Linked DNA regions of Homo sapiens: all the other regions are linked to region 4. The links come from fine-mapping of genetic effects on gene expression. Tissue or cell type: whole blood. Region 4 holds a variant in brackets; each other region holds the start of a gene. Each region is shown on its reference strand, or each on the opposite one.

What was found. PIP is the estimated chance that this variant, and not a neighbour inherited with it, causes the effect. A credible set is the group of variants that fine-mapping cannot tell apart.
Region 1: it holds the start of PDZK1IP1, and the variant in region 4 is fine-mapped to the expression of PDZK1IP1 in whole blood (TOPMed, PIP 0.95).
Region 2: SFRP2 starts here. The variant in region 4 is fine-mapped to the expression of SFRP2 in whole blood (TOPMed, PIP above 0.99).
Region 3: DNAJB2 starts here. The variant in region 4 is the best candidate, but not a certain one, in a credible set for the expression of DNAJB2 in whole blood (TOPMed, PIP 0.60).

The regions. Positions count from the first base shown.
Region 1 is chr1:47,187,831-47,192,865 of GRCh38, reverse strand. PDZK1IP1 (PDZK1 interacting protein 1) reads left to right here and starts at 2,830. Exons shown (of 4, transcript NM_005764.4): 1 at 2,830-3,000. The coding sequence starts at 2,934. RefSeq lists an enhancer at 476-1,425 and a silencer at 2,255-2,549.
Region 2 is chr4:153,786,542-153,791,613 of GRCh38, reverse strand. It overlaps SFRP2 (secreted frizzled related protein 2), which reads left to right and starts at 2,531. Exons shown (of 3, transcript NM_003013.3): 1 at 2,531-3,280. The coding sequence starts at 2,779. RefSeq lists enhancers at 469-638, 900-1,601, 1,602-2,303, 2,218-2,387.
Region 3 is chr2:219,276,420-219,281,491 of GRCh38, reverse strand. It overlaps DNAJB2 (DnaJ heat shock protein family (Hsp40) member B2), which reads right to left and starts at 2,126. Exons shown (of 9, transcript NM_006736.6): 1 at 1,974-2,126; 2 at 1,594-1,694; 3 at 805-914. The coding sequence starts at 1,658. RefSeq lists silencers at 1,802-2,281, 3,523-3,725 and an enhancer at 3,302-4,006.
Region 4 is chr6:139,516,719-139,521,790 of GRCh38, reverse strand. No RefSeq gene overlaps it. Among named protein-coding and RNA genes, the nearest start is that of LINC01625, 45 kb to the right of the region's middle. RefSeq lists a cis regulatory region at 2,697-3,173. The variant T/G (reference allele first, on the strand shown) is at 2,235.

The sequences.
Region 1 (5,035 bases), not on the chromosome of region 4:
GACACACGGTGCAGCCCTGTGGGGCTGCTGAGACCTTAGTCCAGACCCTGGGCCCCAGCCAGACCAGTAGGGGGGCCCACCTTGTTACCATGGGGATCAGGGCTGTGTCCATACAGCTGGGGAGATGACCCTCCACCCGTGTGAAGACCTCCAGGGAGGAGGGACCAGCCTCAAAGCCAAGTGTCCACCCATGCTCCCTCTTTTCTGGAACAACTTGTTTTGCTCTAAAGCTTGGGACTTTGACCCAGGAGGTATGTTTTCCTCCTGTTGATCACCTGGTGTCCTTCCTGTTCATCCCCTTCCCCCACCACTCCCAAAGCATAGCCCAGGGGATCCTTTCCTTTCCCTGGGTTTTTCAGGGAAGTGGAGGATACTGGGGTGGGGAAGGCAGAACCTGGGACTTGAGTGCTGAGGGCACTGGTTGGAGGGGGTGGCACAGCTGTGACCCCCCCACCCTCCTTAAGTCTGTCCTTGCTTGGCTCCTGGGATACCCCACTTTCCTGGGGTTGCTTCCTCCTGTTTCCTCCTGCCCCTTCTTCCTTTGAAAGACCTTTGTGTGTTGGGGGCGTGTCTCCTTCTTTCTGTGCTCTCCCCTCAACACCCCTACCCCCGCTACACACACTGGGGAGACCATGAGCTCCCAGGCCTCAGTTACCATCCCTGTGCTGCAGACGGCTCCCAGATGTTCCACTCCAGATGCAGGGATTTTGCAGCCTTCCAGATGTCTCCCTCTGGAAAGTCCACAGGCACTGCAAGCATAATACCTCAAAATCTATAGCTCATTAATCCTCCAACCCCCCAAACTTGCTCTGGCCCCTACTGAGGCACTAGCATCTACCCAGCTGCCTACGCCAGAAACCTGGGAGTCACCTGAAGCCCTGCCTCCTGCCTGTACCCATTCTCCCAGCTTGGCACTGTGTTCCAGCAGCCACACCCCGGCTTCTCTACCTCCTCAACAGGGCTCAGATCTGTTCCCATGGGCACTTCCTGCCCAGGTCCAGGCACTGGTGTTGTGGCCACTGTAGCAGATCCCTGGATTTCTCTTCTCCAGCCTTTGCATGCCCCTTTCACTCTCCACACTGCATGGAGAGGTGTTTTCCCAAACGCAAAACTAACCATGTGACTCTCCTCCCTAAAATTCTTGGAGAAGGCACCAGTAGATGTTTGTTAAATTCAGCCCCATTCCTTACATTCCAATCAGTGATTCTCTGGCTGTTCATTAACATGCACAGTGCTTACTCCAGTCTGTGTTAGAAGATTCTGAGGACACCAAGTTGGGTGTGGGAGGGAGGCCAGGATATACATGTTTGGGAGGCATCACTCAACTCCAAGCAAAGTTCTCCCAGATCACCTTGAGACACTCCATCTTTGGATGGCAATGGGCCCGACTGCACACGCATGTGAACACACACACACACACCCACACACACCACACACACACACACACACACACACACACACACACACACACACACACACAGGAAGCAGGCCTGAGGCATGATGTCTGAGTGCTCCCGCTGGAGCAGGAAGGCAGAATCAACCTGCCATAGGAAGGGTTGCCCAGGAGGCCTGATGAATAGGAGTTTGGTGGCTTCAGGGAAGAGAGGCTGTGGAGGTGCCTTCAGCTCAGGTGCTGGCTCCTGGGGACCTTCCATCTCTGATGAGACTTTGTTCCAGTTGGCCCGCTCCTTTCTAGGGAGTCAGCATCTCAGCTTCCCATACTTCTGGGGTGGGGGGTGGGGCAAGGAGACCAGCATGACCCTTGGTCAGGGGCTTGCACAGGAACTCTGGCCATTCTCATTCCCTGAGCTGGAGGGCCAGGTGGACACCACGTGATCCTGGGGAGGCTTTTGCCTCTTCCGAGGGCTCTGGCTCCAGGGCCTCCCTGTTCCAGGGGCTAGGTGTGCCTTCCTCAATGCTGCTTTTGGCTATGAGGGTGACGGGCCCAGGGCTTCAGGGCCCCAGATCGCACCTTGCCATCTGGGGTGTCCGTCCTTTGTCCCCCACAGCAGGCTGTGTTTGCCCATTTTCTCCTCTGCCATGGGTGGAGATGGATCTGAAGTTGGGTGTTGAAGCCTCTGACCAAGGCTGTATCTTGTTTTGAGGCCCTGCCCGGTTTCCAGGGACCACATCTGGGGCCAAGAGGAAGAACCGAACTGGGACTAGGTTAGCTGTGCTGGGTCAGGGCCTGGGCATGGGCTGTGAAAGCTGGGGACTGGGACCTTCAGGCCCTCTATTGAGATCTTTGCAGAAGGGGGTGGATTTAGGAAGCTACTGGGCTGGGCCAGGGCGTGGAAGGCACTGAAGCCGTAGTGTGTCCCAGCATTAGAGTCCCAGAGTTTAGCTTGGCGGGGCAGGGGCAGGTGGTGGGGAGAACAGGAAATAGGCCAGGCTCTCGGCGGAGTCTGGCAGCTTTGAGCCTTCTCTGGGCTTCTGGGGTTTTCCCCAGGCTCCTGAGCCAGCCAGGACATTTCTTAATCCCACTGTCAGCCTTCCAAGAAGCCCCGCCCACTGGGCTCAGTCAAGGCAGGAGCGACTGTGTGTCACCCCTTTCCCTAGAATCCAGCCCCACTGCCAGGAAAAGGGAGCTCAGGGCATGGAGGTGAGGCTGGGACTCTCCCACATCTGCTTGTTCCTCATACCCACCTCCTTAGCTGGCCCCTGGAAGATGACCTCGAATGCCAGCCCAAGTGAGCTGGGCACCAGCCAGGGGAGGCCAGGTCTGGCAGCTCATTACCATGGGAGGGAGGGCACGTTCTCTCCGACGCCCGTCTTCGTGTCTCCTCCCTCCCTCGCCTTCCTCCTTCCTAGCTCCTCTCCTCCAGGGCCAGACTGAGCCCAGGTTGATTTCAGGCGGACACCAATAGACTCCACAGCAGCTCCAGGAGCCCAGACACCGGCGGCCAGAAGCAAGGCTAGGAGCTGCTGCAGCCATGTCGGCCCTCAGCCTCCTCATTCTGGGCCTGCTCACGGCAGTGCCACCTGCCAGCTGTCAGCAAGGTAGCTCAGGAGGAGAGGGCTGGGCACGGGAGACCCAGGGGTGGACAGGTGGTGTTCTGGCTCCCCTCCCCAGGGCCTTGATACTTACAGTTTGGAGGGGGAGCAGGGACTGCGCTAGCTGAAAGAATGTCCCAAGGCAGAGACCTCTGAACCAAGTCTCTGCCTGTCACTTGTTTTCAACGAGTGAAAACTGGCAGCAGTTGGTTCTAGGATCTCAGGGAGGAACAGGATTTGAGGCCCAAGCCCCAAGAGCAGGCATTGCCCAAGGGATGGCTGGGTCCTGAGTACAGGGGACCCGGGGGTACAAGTAGGGTGAGAGTGGGGCCCAAGCCACCCCTCAAAGACTTGGGCTTTGTCTCGGCCTCTTGGGCTTGGATAGAGAACAGTGCCCAGTGTGACTCCCCCAAATATCTGACCTCTTCGTCCTGCTCTGCCTGAATGGATGTGTGACCTTGAGCAAATCACTGCCCCTTCCTGAGACTCAGTTTTCTCACCTATAAAATGAGAACAATAAACCCCACCCTGCCCACCTCCCAGGGCTGCTGCCAGGTCAGAGGTGAAGAAGGGCTTTGCACCTGGTGAAGTAACTAACCCAAGGTCTGGCTTTCATTCTACACTGTCAGGCTGCATCTGCAGCCAAAGTCTGGGGACTCTGCAGGTGGGACTTGGTCCAGAGGGGACTGGCAAAGATGCTTTCAGAGCTCCCCTCCCACCCCCACCCCGAGCTCTTATGTGTGTCTGCTTCAACTCTGTCTCCCAGGTCTTGGAAGCCCTCTGGGGAACTGCAGACCAGAGAGGTTGAGTCACAGAGCACGGCAAGAAAGGACAGGGTTCAGACCACCTTTCTCCTGCCCCAGACACTGCCCCTTGCTGTATGTGCATGGGAGGAGGAGCAGGGACTGTGGTCCCTGGGGTGACTGGAGAGAATTGGCTGCAGGGTCTAGGAGGAAACAGGGAGGGGCCTCCAAGGGTTGAGCCCTAACTCCCCATGCTTGAGCAACCACTGACCTGAGGGAGCAGTCTGAACCCCTAGGGAAACAATGACTCCCAAATACTGCTTTTTGGCAGGTGTGGAACTGAGGGTAATCACACTGTGTGTCTTCTGCTTCCCCTGGAGATAAGTGAGGTCTGACCTCACTACAGGCCAGAGAGTTCCTAGCCTCCTTCCTCCTTCCCAATATTTGCCAGGCTCGGAGAAGAGGTCAGGCCTCCACTGCAGCAGGAGAGCTTTTGGTAGACTCAAAGGAGGACATTTGAGCAGGAGTGAGCCAGAGGAAGGTTTTCTCATGTCCAGCTTGGGTCCCTCAAAATATAGGGATGCAGGTATATTCTGGCCTGGAGGCAGGACCCCTCTGAAGCCCCCTGCTGACCTGTGTTTTGTCCTGGGACTTCTCCCCGCTGAGGGTCTTTTCTCTACAAGGCTGAGCTCCTGCAGGCTCATGGAGTGCAGTGATGCTGGGGAAGAGGAAAGTCCTTTGGGGAAGCAGAGGCCTGAAGGCAGGGACTTCAGGAAAATCTTGAGGGACTGTGTTGGTGTCAAGGGTCAAAAAGCAGAGAAGGGACCTGGTGCAGTAGCTCATGCCTGTAATCCCAGCACTTTGGGAGGCCAAGGCCAGAGGCTCGCCTGAGCCCAGGAGTTTGAGACCAGCCTGGGCAACGTAGTAAGACCCTGTCTCTATTAAAAAATAAAAAAAGTAGAGAAGGGTGCAGGTTGGGGCCTCAACCTAATCTCTGGCCCTAGTCCCTGGGCACCCAGCTGGGGGAATCAAAAGGAGCTCAGGTTTTGAGGCTTCTTTCCTGGTCCCCAAGACCCAGAGTAGAGTTCACCCCTCCATTCTGCCCTTCTAAAGATGTCCTGGTCCACTCCTCTCTCTGGGTACCCCAGGCACCCCAGATCTCCCCAGCTGAGCAGCCCTGAGAGTCTCCCACTCTCATACCCTTCCTACCATCAGAGAAACGTCTTGCTACAGAACAGGATCTTCTAGATCCCAGACCAGTCTTGTCAGCTGTGGGTCCTCCTCAGCCTTCTGGGAGC
Region 2 (5,072 bases), not on the chromosome of region 4:
AAGGATCGAAGGAGACCTGTGGACCTGAGGTCAACTGGCAGCAGAGAAGAGTCTGGGTTCGTGAAGGCGCCGCCGCGGTGCCGCGCCACGTGTGAGCATCCCAGGGACCAGTCTGGGGAGGCGCGCTGGGATGGGCACCCAGTGTCCCATCCCTGCGCTGCTCATATGGGCAGAGCTCCGTGCCCGCGTCCCAGCCTCCGCGGGAGGTTATTGCCCTGTTCCCCAGTGATCAATTGGACCGGTCTTAGCCCAAAAGCAGAAGGGAGTGGGGAGAGCGACTTGAGGTGGGAAAGGCAGCAGCAGCGAGTGCAGGGTCGGGACCAGACTAAGTGGCGTGGGTTCCGGGAGGAGCAGCGATGGGCCGCAGGGGACGCCGCGGGCCGGGCAAACAAGCTGGCCAGAGGTGGACACTGCGCACGGCAGGGATGGAGACTCAGGCGCGACTCCCAGCACCTCCTGGCGGCAAGCCGGGCAGCGAGGGCTCCCAAAACAATGCAGCCGGCGCGCGGAGCGCGGGGGCCGCCAGCCACTTCCGGGCGTGCGGCAGCGCGGGGCTCAAACCAGCCAGACCAGCTTCGGGCTCCTTGAACTCCCAACAAGGGGCTCTGCGGGGAGGAGGCGACCCCAGCGGAGGGCGTTGGGGATTTAGGGGTTGGCCGGGGCCGGCGGGGGGTTGGGGGGGCGTGAAAGCGAGAGGGCCCTTATCCCACTCCCAGGCCCAAGTCGTAGCATCTCTCAGAGCTCACGCTCTTTATTAGCTCTTTCTTTTGGTGTGCTTCTGTTTCCTTTGTGGTTTCATTGCAAAGTAGTTTATGTTGGGAAGGGGGCTTTTAGGCCTCTTGGTGCTTTCGTTAGAGACGAAAAGGCCCTGAACCAATTTGGGGAAAGAGAGGCCTTTTGCAGCTACCCCGGGCCCTTCCCCAGCAGAGCACCCGGAAGCTGGGCTCTTAGGGACGCAGATTCTTGGAGTTCAGAATGTGCATTCTCTCCAGATGACGATTTTCCTGGCGTGTTTACGGTCAGCAGATAACACTGAGTGGGCTTTTGCCACCCATTCATTCATTACCCGGCTCCTCTAAGCAGCTGGACCGCAAAGTGTGCCTGATAACTTGGGCCTGGGAGCCGCCAAGGCCAACGCATCTTCCGGAAGGAGGGAAATTAGGAAGCCGGGGTCTGAGCCTGTGAATGACTCTTAAGTGGTCGGGAAGTAATAACAATGCGCCCACCTTACATATGAAAGAACTTCGCCCTCCGGGGATTATCTCTTTGGATCTTCACAGCCACCCGGAGACAGCGGCTGAGGAGAGCGAAGGCCTCCTGTCCCCATAGGGAGACTAGGGACAATTAGGCAAAAGGAGCCCACCCCCCAACCCAGAACTTACTGTTTGCAGTCAGAGACACTAGATCCCAGGCTCCACGAGAGCAGAGGCCGGCCTGTTTGTTCATTTCTGCACATCCAGCGCCCAGCATGGTGCCCCCTGGTACGTAGGGGATGAATGAGCTAATTCTAGCCCTCGTGGATCTCTAGGCAGGACTCCTTCCTCTACCTCGCTCCCTCCCAGCCTGCCCATCTTTTGTGCCCGTCTTTTGTGCCGGCCACCAGTCTTTACAAACAGTGCCCTGGGGGCCCATACTCCAGCTTTCCAGAGCGCACAGCTGCAAGGGCGGCTGTGTGTTAGAGCCCGTGATGCCTTCGAGTATTGAGTCATGCCATTCATTTAAGAAGGAAAAATCTCTCCAAAACGGGGAAATGGTGGGCAGTCCTGTGTGACTGGTGAGACTCTTGTAGGGGCGTTTCTACAACGACGAAACCCTTCCTAGGCACTCACTCCAACAGAATAACAAGCCCATTTTATTAGTATTTCGTTTTCCATGTAAAGTTCTGCTCATACGAATATATTTATAATTCTGATTTTTTTACGGCATTGGGGAGCACACCGACAGGCTGCTGAACGGTGGCTGGAGATTCGAGGGAAAACGAAGTTCGCCGAGGCGGCCTCGGGCGGGCAGGTCCCGGGCTCCATCACAGGGCACACGCGGCTACCAGGGACGCAGCCCCCCAACACACACACACACACACACACACACACACACACACACACACACACCCTCTCCCACTCATGCCTGGCAACCCAGCAGAAACTTCGGACTGGGGCAAAACAAGCCCGGGCCCCGGCGGCACGCGGGGCTAGGCGCGTTCCCGCCAGTACCTGGTCGCGAGGCCGCTCGCGGGGTGCCCTGCGTGCCCCCCACTCCCGCAGCCCGCGCCCTGCTCGCTCACTGTGGGGGCGCAGCGGCCAGGCTTCTCTGTTTGTTGTTTAAAGAAATCCTAGGGCGGGCGAGCGGCGGCATCTAGGGGAGGGGGCGCAGCCAGAATTCCCTTCCAGCAAGCGCGTGAGGGGCATTCTCAACGCAAAACCAGACCCAGAAAGTAGTGACCAGCCCTCCTCGGATTACCCTTCATTGGCTCCTCCCTTGCTCCCCCCACCCTCCAGATTTGCATAAAAAAGGCCAAGAAAACTCTGGCTGTGCCCCAGCAACGGCTCATTCTGCTCCCCCGGGTCGGAGCCCCCCGGAGCTGCGCGCGGGCTTGCAGCGCCTCGCCCGCGCTGTCCTCCCGGTGTCCCGCTTCTCCGCGCCCCAGCCGCCGGCTGCCAGCTTTTCGGGGCCCCGAGTCGCACCCAGCGAAGAGAGCGGGCCCGGGACAAGCTCGAACTCCGGCCGCCTCGCCCTTCCCCGGCTCCGCTCCCTCTGCCCCCTCGGGGTCGCGCGCCCACGATGCTGCAGGGCCCTGGCTCGCTGCTGCTGCTCTTCCTCGCCTCGCACTGCTGCCTGGGCTCGGCGCGCGGGCTCTTCCTCTTTGGCCAGCCCGACTTCTCCTACAAGCGCAGCAATTGCAAGCCCATCCCTGCCAACCTGCAGCTGTGCCACGGCATCGAATACCAGAACATGCGGCTGCCCAACCTGCTGGGCCACGAGACCATGAAGGAGGTGCTGGAGCAGGCCGGCGCTTGGATCCCGCTGGTCATGAAGCAGTGCCACCCGGACACCAAGAAGTTCCTGTGCTCGCTCTTCGCCCCCGTCTGCCTCGATGACCTAGACGAGACCATCCAGCCATGCCACTCGCTCTGCGTGCAGGTGAAGGACCGCTGCGCCCCGGTCATGTCCGCCTTCGGCTTCCCCTGGCCCGACATGCTTGAGTGCGACCGTTTCCCCCAGGACAACGACCTTTGCATCCCCCTCGCTAGCAGCGACCACCTCCTGCCAGCCACCGAGGAAGGTAAGCCTTCCCTCTTGCTTCCCCACTCCCTGCTGGGCTGAGACGCTCCCAGGAGATCCCGCCCCTGCCACGCATCCCAGTGCATCCCTGCTTGGGGTGCCAGTAGCGGGAAGGGCAGAAGTTCTGCCTGACCTGGTCTGTCATCACAACAAGCCTGTATCAAATTTGAGGCACCCCTCCCACGCCGCCCAAGTCTCGCGCATTCTCCTCCCGAGTTGTACCAGCTATACTTAAGGGCAGTTTAAAAATAAAACAAACAAACAAAAACAACAAAACTAAAAAAACGAAGAACTGAACGGCGGTTTAAAAAAAAATAGATACACGATTATTGTTAAAGATGCTAGCACTGGAGCTGCGCAGAGCGTTGGAAGTGGTGTTTGGTGGAGGAGTTTGTGGTGAGCATTCTGGCCAGAGGCCCCTCGCTCAGCCTCATTCTGCACCTTCCTACCACTGGGCAGGATTCTAGTCACAGGAACATTTCCTGTACAGAAAGGAAAACCAGGATGCACAAGTAGATAACCTTTTAAGGGTCTTTTTGTCCTTTGTCAATTTAGATTTTGGAAATAAAACCGGGACTGGCACGGAGTGTGTGGAAAATTGAACATTGGTTGTAACTGCTCAGATACTTGAGGAAGAGGGCATAAAGGGAATCTCTGGAAATCACTTTTCTATTGCTATCAGTTTTTAACTTAGGAGTGGTTTTGATTAGCTGGAGAAAATCATGCAAAAGAGATTCCCAAGTTTTTAGAAAACGGAGGGAGAGTTCCTGTGCAAAAACCATCAAAGCAATGAAAACCTCATGGGCTCTCAATATTTTTTCTGAAAGGAAAACATATACAATGCCTCTGAGCTGATTTGGGTCCCCTGGGTTGGAAAAGGGAGCTTCCTAATCCCTTTCAGGGCTTCAGCAGCCTCTCCCTTTCAATCTCTAGTAGTTTTCCTACAGACATCATTAGTTAAAGCAAATGCAAAGTTCTTTAGCAATCTTTCCTGGCAGGGACCATGAGTTTGCAATCATCTTATTGGTTAGATTTCTAATTTATTGCAAATGTTTGGCATTTTTCAAACATTTGTCCAACATGTACCATAGACCAACCAATACAGGTTAGTAATATTTTATATACATCCTGAGAGCTCCTAATTGGAAATGTTTGATTTTGTTTGGGTGAGGGGACTTAAGGGCAGTTTTATGTATGTTGCTTTTATTTCTTCCCACTATCAGCAGCAACATTACGCATCTTACATTTCTCCAAAAAGCCACTTTTCTCCTTCAAAATAAAAGTTTATGTTCTTCAAAATTCCAGCTTTGTGATTTTTCTAATTTGATAAATAACGCTTCTATTAAGTCACATAGTTTTCTATGAACATTAAATTTCACATTAGTGAAAATCTCATTTCACCTAAATTTTAAAGACATAATTAACACATTTATAAATGAGAGAAGGGCAATATAATTGTTCTTTTTTTTTTTTTTTTACTTCTCCCAAGAAATCAAACTCTTAGAAGAGCTTTTAGCAGGTCTTCTGATAATTGTGCTAGTATACAATCCCTAAGTTTGATCAGACCACTAAACCATTTTTGCTTCGTCTTTGATTAGCTTCAGAAACAGGTTTATTTATTTGTTTGTTTTGAGAGTTTGAAACAGGCACAGAAGGGCAAGAAGAACCTGTACCAGGGAGCTTGCAGATAACAATGAAATGAATGCTGCCTAACTCAAGCACAATCTTGGCAGAGGCACAAGGTGACACAGAACCACTTAGAGCAGGCTGTTGTAATTAGTGAGATGTGTTTT
Region 3 (5,072 bases), not on the chromosome of region 4:
CGCACAGGGTTGTTGCACAGATCAAATGAGACCATCCACGTAAACTGCCTACCAGTGCCTGACACATAGAAAGTGTTCAATAAATGTTAGCTAATGATTACTACATTATTATTCACCAGGGCTTAGCCTAAATGTCACCTTCTCGGAGAGGCCTTCTACAACCACCAGAACTAAAGCAAGTGCACATTATTCCCTAGCACTCCACCTGCCCTGTTTCTTCCCTCGGAATACTCTTCACAAGCTGTAACTGTGTCTGTGTGTGTGCCTGGTAGGTGTTGGTCTTCCCTGCCCCTCTGGGCAAAGACAGTGCCTGCTTGTCCTCCAGTTTCCCCAGCACCCAGCGAGTGCCGGACACTGTCACCATTCACTGAATTACTTTTCGAATGAATCAATAAAAAGGCAGACCTGGATTCATATTCCAGCTCTGCGTGGCCTTGAGCAAGTTACTTCACCTCTCTCAGCCTCAGTTTCCTTGCCTGTAAAATAGGGGTGATAGAACCTGCCTCATAGGACGGCTGTGAGAACTCATGGAGATGACACCCACCAATGCCTGGCACGCAGGAGGCTCAGCTCACATGAGTTACCTGCCCTGCTTCCTTCCCCTTTCAGGTCTCATGCCAGCCACTCCTACCAGACTCTGGGGAGCAGACACTGAGCTGTCCCTGTGGGAGGGGGGAGCTTAAATGTCAGGCTGGAAAAAGGCACAGAGGAAACTAGGTGGCAGAGACATTGCTTTAAGAAAATGTGAGCTGGGGCATGAAGTAGGGGGTGATGTGCTGGGTCCTGCCTGACCCCGGCCCTTACTGTCAGACAGCACTTCATATGCCTCGGCCACCTCCTTAAATTTCTTCTCAGCAAACTCTTTATTATCTGGGTTTTTGTCTGGGTGCCACTGGAGAGCCTTGCGCCGATACCTGCAGAAAGTGGGTGCAGAGGAGAGAGTCGGGGGACAAATGCAGGCACTTCCCACCCAGGAACCGAACGACCTGTTTTCCCATTAGCCTATCACTGTCCTTTCACCCCCGGGTCCCAGTCCACCCCAGCTGCTAGGGCTGCCGCTGCTGTGATATTTTCATCAAGTTCCACCCTCTCTCCTCCGCCACCAGTGCTGGGACCACATGTACAAGCGGATACAATGCCAGGGTCCCTAGCCCCTCCCTAGGGCTCACTGGACTGGGGCTGCAAAGGTTGGGGCACATGTGGCCTCGAAGAGTACAGGGACACCGGCCCCTCCTCCTCATAGAGCCTCTTTGCACTGCATCTTTGCACTGCAGCCTGAGAATGCCCAAATCTAGGGGGAAGGGGGAGGGGAGGGGAAAGGAGGAGGAGGAGGAGGAGGAGGGGAAGATCAACTGGAGAACAACCCATAACACAGTGCAGCTCCCAGAGGAACTAACTACTTCACTCTCTGGACGTTCTCCTTGTACTCTACCAGGGGTCTCTTTCCTCCCTGCAGGTGTCACTCGGAAGAAGCACCCCAGTGCTTTCTAACGACCTGGTTCCCTCAGACACCTACAGGTGTCACTCTGAAGTGCCCCATGGTGGTGGCGGGTGGAGGGTGAGAGGTCTTCTGTTGCATACGGAGGCACTTACGCCTTCTTGATGTCATCAGCGGACGCACTTCGCGGCACGTCTAGGATCTCGTAGTAGGATGCCATGGCAACTGGTCAGTCGTCAGGCGGGCCTCCTTGGGGCTGCAGAAGAGAAGGAGTCAGGCGGAAAGAACCAAGAGCCCCACCCTGTGGCTGCAGCAGTCCCCCTCCCCGGGTGGCGGAAGGCGCTCCCAGTTGGAAGCGGAGCACACCGGGCTCTGCTTGCGGCCGGTGACTAGGCTCCCTCCGGCAGCCTTATCTGCCCCCGCAGGCCGGGGCCAAGAGCTATCTCGACGCCCAGGCCCAGGAGCCCTATCGGGGCCCCCCAACTCCAGCAGTCCGATCCAGGGCCCCCAGCCTGACCCGGGCCCCCGGCCGCACCTCCTCCGCCAGGAGTCCCGGCCTCCTGCGGCGCCCCGCCCCTGCCCCCCGCCGGGAACCGTCTGGCACCCGCAGCCCGGCTCGCGGCTGCTGCGTAGGACGCGCCCGGCCCAGCTGTGCGCGCAGGCATGCGTCAGCGGTGCGGAAACTACTAGAGACGGGGAGAAGGCCGGCTCCGCCTGTCCCCTGGGGGGGTGGGGGCCTGCAGGGGCTGCCGGGAGAAGAGGGCGGAGCCGGCTATTTTGGGCACACACCAGGACGACGTCAGCCCCAGCTGGGACCTGGGAGACTGCGGCCCCGCCTCCATCCAAGCGAGAAGCGCTCGCACGGAGGCTGGGGCAGCCCACAAACAAGCCGCTCGGCCCCCAGGTTCCTCTGTCACTTTCTTATAAACATGAGCGATGATCCATGCTTACTCACCCACCTCGAGGACTCAGACTCTTCCCTCCCTCCCCCCACCACGGTTCTAACTCCTCCCCCTTCTTCAGCTCCCAGCTCCAGCCCCAGGTCCCCCAGCAGGCTGCCCTGGCTTTCCTGAGTAGGTCAGAACTGCCTTTTACAGCATCTCGTGGCATTTCCTTCATCAGGCTTGTTAGAGCCACAAATTAGCATTTATTGGTTTGATTATTTTTTATTACCATTCACCTCCCCCACTAGAATGTCGATTTCACAGGACAGGAATTGTGTGTTTTTTCTCACTGGTCTATTAGAGCAGTCGTAGGGGTTCAAAACTACCCGTGGGATGAATAAATAATGAACACCTGCAAACCTCTTGTTGACAGTTTTGACACATTTGGGGGAGGTGAGGTAAAGGGGGCCGTACAACGGAATTCCCCAGGTTCAAGTCTTCCCAAACTGATCCTGAGTAGGCCTATTCCACTTCAAAATGCTCCCTGGGTTCAGGCCTCATTGGAGAGTTAGGAAACCTTCCAGAACTGGCTCCTGCTTGATCCCATCCAGGCCAATCCAAAGGCGTTAGCTGAGCATTTTTCTGCATTCAAGATGCTGCCAGGCCGTATAAAGAAGAATGTGGCCCAAGCCCTGCCTTTGCAGAGCTTGAACTTGATAAGATACCAGCCCATCAGTGTAGCCCGCTGGGAAACCCGAGGCTTTGGAAACAGAGTACAACCTGGCATTACTGTGAGACTTGGGAAAATCTCTGAGCACTCTTTTTTTCTCACTAAATATAGGTAGTGCCTAGGGTTGTTTGAAAGTCAAATGAGACATGGTACGAATTAGGTGTTACTGCGGTCCTGCTGGCATCGTGATTGGCTCAAGCAATAATGGTTATGTGAGTCCAGAAAAGTGCTTTAGGCTGGGGGACCCAGGAATACTTCGCCAACGAGAAGGGTTTGAGGCGGACGTGAGAGAAGAAGGTGGTGTGAGTGTCCTGGTTTCCTGGCTGCCCACCATCAGAACCTCCTGCCTACATTTGGGGAATTCCCATCGCAAGGGCCCTAATGGAAAGCAGGCCACCATTTGCCACAAAGCCCCAATGCTTGCTCTCCCTGACTCGGCTCTGGGGTTGCAGGCAGAAGACATGAGCTCCGCCAATCGGATGCTCCAACTGGGACTTTGAATCTGGAGCAAGTCACGGAATAGCAAGGCTGGTTTAGGAATTCATTTCTGCGGCGGCGGTGGAGGCGATGGGGCCAACAGCGGCCTCTAGTGTCTGGAGGAGGAAGTGTCAGCGCTACTGCCGCAGGTGAGGGACGAGAGTAGGAGGATCACTGCGGAGGGTGGAGGGGACAGGAGTCTCCTACACAGGCTGTCCTGTGCCCAACCTTGACTGTGGTACTGGCTGCCCAGCTTCCCTAGGTGCCTGTCTGATTGCTGACCCTTGTTTGCTGGCCCTTGCATTGATTCTGTGTGCTATCCGATATCTCTATAATTGTTGGGGGCAGGGGACTTGAAACAATTTGCCAGTTAGCTTCTGCTGTTTATAAGAGTCCTGACTGACACAAAGACTAAGGGTTAGACTTGGTATAAGAGGAAGGAGTGGTTGGGTTAAGTCACTCCAAATTTTCCAGATCTCTGCCTTTTTCTTCTTACTCTGCTGTGCCAACAGACATTTGTCTAGCACCTACCGTGTATGTCTTGTTATATTAAGAAAAAGAATATAAAAAAGTTTAAATTCCAATCTCTGTGCTCAAGGGGATAGGACATAGACAAATGACAACTGAGGGAAATTATATGGAGCACATCTAGCAGACAAAGGTTTAATTTCCTTTGTCCACAAAGAAATGCCAACTAATGAAAGACAATGACATTTTTAAATGGACAAAGGGACAGGCAGCTCACAGAAGAGGAAATACTGGCTTTTAAACAAATGAAAAGATGCTCAATCTCATTCACAAAAAAACTGTAAACTAAAGCTACGACAGGCCAGGCATGGTGGCTCATGCCTGTAATCCCAGCACTTTGGGAGGCCAAGGCGGGTAGATCACCTGAGGTCAGGAGTTTCAGATCAGCCTGGCCAATATGGTGAAACCCTGTCTCTACCAAAAATACAAAAAGTAGCCAGGCGTGGTGGCACATGCCTGTAATCCCAGCTACTCGGCAGGCTGAGACGGGAAAATCACTTGAACCCGGGAGGCGGAGGTTGCAGTGAGCCAAGATCGTGCCATTGCACTCCAGCCTGGGCAACAAGAGTGAAACTCCATCTCAAATAATAATAATTTTTAAAAGAATAATAATAATAAAGCTACAACAAAATACTTTGGGGTTTTGTTTTTTGAGATGGAGTCTTGCTCTGTCATCCAGGCTCCAGTGCAGTGGCACTATCTTGGCTCACTGCAACCTCCCAGGTTCAAGCAATTCCCCTGCCTCAGCCTCCCAAGTAGCTGGGATTACAGGCATGTGCCACCACCCCTGGCTAATTTTTGTATTTTTTGTAGAGATGGGGTTTCACCATGTTGGCCAGACTGGTCTCAAACTCCTGGCCTCAGATGATCCTCCTGCCTCAGCCTCCCAAAGTGCTGGGACTATAGGCCAGAGCCACTGCACCCGGGCACATGGCCCTAACAAAATACTTTGTTTCACTTATTGGATGATTGACAAAGACAAAAAAAAGAAAAAAGTTGAATACATTGTATGGGC
Region 4 (5,072 bases):
AGCCAGGAGCACAGCTGTTGGAATCCCATGGCCAAAGGAAGGCACAGAAAGCTGAAGATCTGTCCTTCCTCCACCTTTTCCAATCTTAGGGCCTTCTTCCCACATTAAATATTTGCTGATACCACATTTGATTTTCTTTACTCACTGAAGCCTATGGGCCAGGTTAGTGATGGTTTGGCACTACTTGGAAGAAGAGCTTTCATTACAGTGTCTTATTACTTTACATGCCAGTACATGTGTGCCATATATACAAGCACGTGTTGGTTATGCCCACAAGAACACTCTGTAAATGTGAAAGCATCAAGCAAGCCACCAAGAAGACTTCTACCTAAATAGGCAAAACTCAAGAGCTTCTCAACATCTCCCTGCCTTATGTTATTCTCAGTGGCAAGAGCTCATGGGGGCGGCAGGGCCTGGAAGCAGGTGGCCTGGGTTGGCACAACGTTAGCCATCTAATCTTAAACACGTCACCTTTCAAAGGGTCTGTTTCCTTACTTAGAATACGAAGGCACTCTTGGGTTTCTCCTCGCTCTTAATTTTAAAATCTCTATTCCCATATTCCTACTGATAAATCTGAATAAAATATAAACCCCTACATTGACAATTACTACAGGAACGACAGTAATGAAGTGACAAAAATATTACTGCAATCATCTTTCTTCCTCCAAAAAACTACAGATTACAGCAACATCTCCAAAATTTAGTGTTAGATTTTCTCAGCATTCCACATCAAAGGAAAAACAGTTTAAATATATATACATATGAATGTATAAATTTGGTACCTTCACTGCAAAAAAAAATATCAGTGTGCAAAAATGAGTGCAAAAGAGATCACTCCTCATGCATGGAGTGGTGATTTCCCTGAAGTTTGGAGTAGACTTGGCGATTCAGAACATCACTTATCTTTATCCAAACTCCATAATCCATAAACTGTGGACCTATTTTCACCCCTAACCAATGAAAGACAGCTGGCTCCATGTATATAAAGAAATTGTATAAAACTCTATCCAAGTTTTCAGTTCGTTAATGACAAAGATTTGACTCCAGATTTCATCACTGTAACATCCCACCATTGTTCCCCCATGACTCACTGTACCTGATTTACAGGAAGATACAGTCTGAATATGAAAGGACATTTCATCATCAGCAACAACAGAAAGTATCCATTAAGTCATAATTATATGACTTGGTGTTTCATTAGTCACCTTAAAAAAAAAAAAAGAAAAAGAAAGAAAAGAAATACGGTCCTTCCATTCTAACTGGGTACATTCTACAACTAAAAAGAATGTTTTGAACCAGCATGATAAGGACATACAGATGGCAAAATGCAACATCACAGTTGATCACAAAGGCATAGATTTCTATATAAGGGTGACCAATAAGGAGCCAGCAGGGTCAACATGCGATGACGGCAATCAACATAGAGGTCTAGAAAAGTTGAGATAAGATAAAGCATGTGTTCTTATCACTCTGGGAAGACTTCCTGGAACTGGTAGCGTTTTTTGGTAGGGAAATATACATTGGCTGGTGGGCTGGGGGCTCAGGAAAGGTTCATAAAAGCAAGTGGAATAATTATTCAAGAGGGTGCTCACCTTGTGATCTGCTTACGGAGGTCCACTCACCTGGGACCCTAGATCTGCTGCACAATATTTGAAGGAGAGGATGCCGTTAGGGGACAAAAAGTTTGACAAGGACACAGAGACAGTGGTCCTGATAAAAGAAGACAAAGTTCTGCAACTAGGCAGACAGCAAGGAAAGCAGTGCATTCAGATGCTGGAAAGGAAGACATTCTCTCAAGCAGCAGATGGCCTCTCGTGGATCTCACTTGCACCGTACACCATGGCTTTAACAAGACATTTTGCAATGGGTAGCTTAGAATCTGGTATCCAAGAACAGTGACCCATTTCAGGGTGTCTTAATATCCTGAAATTTACCACAAACTTGGTAAGTTGAAGTTTCTGTGGGATATTATTGGGAAATGCTTCACATCCCTAAGTCATTCCTTCTCAACTGTTCCTCAAAAGCTTAAAATAGCACTTAACTCCCAGAGTGATTCAACTGGCTTAAAATAATTCACAAACATCTTCCTCAAAGGAAGTAGGGAAAAGATAGGAGGTGGAATGCAAATCAGCTAACAGGTTTTGTGAACACTGAGAGGTGAATAGATTAGCGCTAACAGATCGGGTAGAGTCTGGAGGCAGCCGTGAAGCTGATTGTGTCTCGATCAGGTTATT[T/G]CAGCCAATAATTGTTTGTTGGAGTTAGAAAGCATATAAAGGTTAACAAGGCTAAGGAAGACCGGTCTCTGGGAAATAAACTACATAGCCTAAGGAGATGATAATCAAGGGAGAAAATTCCTCTTATCCTTGCTAAGCCATATCTACATGGAAATAATAGTCAATAGGCTTTCTATATCTAGATGGTAACGGTTTCTTTTCCCAAGGATTGGCACCAGATAGGTTGTTTGGGGAAAGGGGTAAGAAGGGGAAGCACGTGGATTTGCCGCTCACACCTACTATAAACGCTACAAAACAACATTCTTCTTTTATTTTGAAGCCACATTCTGTAAGCTTGTGAGTTAATTCATTAATTCACCAGAAATTTATTTTACACTCATCACACATCAGACACTATGCCAGGCCCTCAGGATATAAAAGTGAATAAATAATATAATTAATCATAATAATAGCTTCCATTATTGGGTGGCTAGCATGTGCCAGGAATTCTACCTCCGTTATGCAATGGAATGCCCACAACTAACTTCTAAATGAGGCATTATGTTCCCATTTGTCAATGGAACACTAAGATGAAGAAATGAGCGTTCTGAGAGGCTAATAAAAGTGGCAGATGGCTCAAGGAACTCCAGTGTGAGAGCGAGATAAGCACTCCATGTTTGCAATATTCTATGGGAAATGCTAAAACAGAGATTACAAAAATAATAGGAGGAGCTTCTAACTCAGCACAGGGGAGAGGAGATCGATAGGCGAGGAGAGGGGAAAGTAGGAGTGTGTATGAGAGCCAGAGAGATAAGGTATCTCTCTGAGGGTGTGTGTGTGGGGGCGGGGGAGAATGTGTGTCCGTGTGTGTATGTCTGTGTGTGCGTGGGTATACATGTTTCTTTCTGTTTGTTTTTTGTTTTTTTGTTTGTTTGTTTGTTTGTTTTTGAGACAGACTCTCGCTCTGTCGCCCAGGCTGGAGTGCAATGGCACGATCTCGGCTCACTGCAACCTCTGCCTCCTGGGTTCAAACGATTCTTCTGCCACAGCCTCCCAGGTAGCTGGGATTACAGGCGCCCACCACCACACCTGGCTAATTTTTGTAGAGACGGGGTTTCACCATGTTGGCCAAGCTGGTCTTGAACTCCTGACCTCAGGTGATCTGCCCGCCTTGACCTCCCAGAGTGCTGGGATTACAGGCGTGAGCCACCACGCCCGGCCCTGGGTATACATATTTGTGTGTGTGTGTGTGTGTGTGTGTGTGCCTGCGCGCAAGTGCACATGTGCCCTGGGGGGGGGAGAAGGTCATAGCACCCCAGAGATATACAGTCCAGGAAAGGAGATAGGGGTAATATGAACTGTCTTTCAACCAACCATACCCACAAAAAGCTTCCCTCTGCATTTCTGCAGGATGAAGCGTGTTGCAAGAGAAAACAGCAGGGCTTACGCACAGTGTTTGGGGGATGACACAAGAGGCCCTGACAAGATACTTTTTATCAGCTTGAAGAAGAGGGGGCATTTATCTTGACAGACTAATTACCCGCTTTGAGTTAGATATTGTTCCGTCTATCCGTGTACCCAATGTGGCTATAGTAATGACAGGTTTTTTAAACAAACAAACCAAAGCTTCTAGGTCCAAATAAATGCTGCAAAGTAGTCACCTTAAGTTTAATTGCTTATTTCATTGTCTCTCTCATTGCTCAAGGCATTTCAGAAACATCTCTTTTGAAATTGCCTTCATAGCTTACGGTGCATTTTTTTTTTGAATATCCTTAACGGTGATAAATTTTCACCAGTTAAAGGGTAGTATTTTTGGTTTTGTTTCAAGTCAAAAAAATCATTTTGAGCTAAGTCCATGATGACTGATTAAACTGGATAAAAATAATCAAAAACACCAATTAAATGCTAGGCACTAAACTGTTTTTCATGAATCATCTCACCTAATTTAATTCTTAACACAAATCTATAAGGTGAATATTAATGTCCCTATTTGATATATATTTAATAATTATAAAATTAGCACATGTTATTGAAGGAAGGTTGAAAAATCTTGAAGAGTAGAGACCAAAGCTGCTTCAGTGTCCCACTTACCCACATCGAATCACTACTGATATTACTGCGCTTATCTACCTAGTGTTTCTTCTATGGGTAAGCATAAGAATACATTTTCCCCAAAAATTAATAACAATGTGTATAACCTTATAATTTTTCACTTACTATTATATTGTGAACAATTTTTCATGTCACTAAATTTCTTCCACAAAAATCTTTACTCCCTATTTGGTATTCCTGTTTGTGGATATATCATAGTCTACTCACACAATTCCAATATTTCAATGCTGCAAAGGAACATTCTTCATAGATAAAACTTTGTGGATTTTTATGATCGTTCCCATCAGATAATTTCCTAGAAGTAGAACCACTAGATCCAGGACATGAATCTTTTTGTTAAAAGTTTCCCATTTCTTGGATGAGTAAATCAAAACTCATTAAGCACTTTCCAAGATCATAAAAGTACAATCTAGCGGAAGTTAGATTTGATGCAGGTCTTTGACTCTCTAAAGCCTGTGGGGTTTTTTTTTTCCCCCAATATGATAAATTAATTTTGATGGAAAATGAGAAATATCAATAAAATAAAGAATTTTCACACGTGCAACCAAAACTATTCATGAAAGGCTGTTTTTAAAGGAGTTAAAAAATGCTTTGGATTTGCATTGTTTCCCTAGGTGACTCTTCCAGGAATCAAGCTCGTTTCTGAGTTTGTGTTTTGTTATATTTCTTCCTAAAGCACTCATTTTACTTCATTGTTACATTCTTTGAAGATGTCAGTTCTGTCCTTTATGAATCTACAATATTATG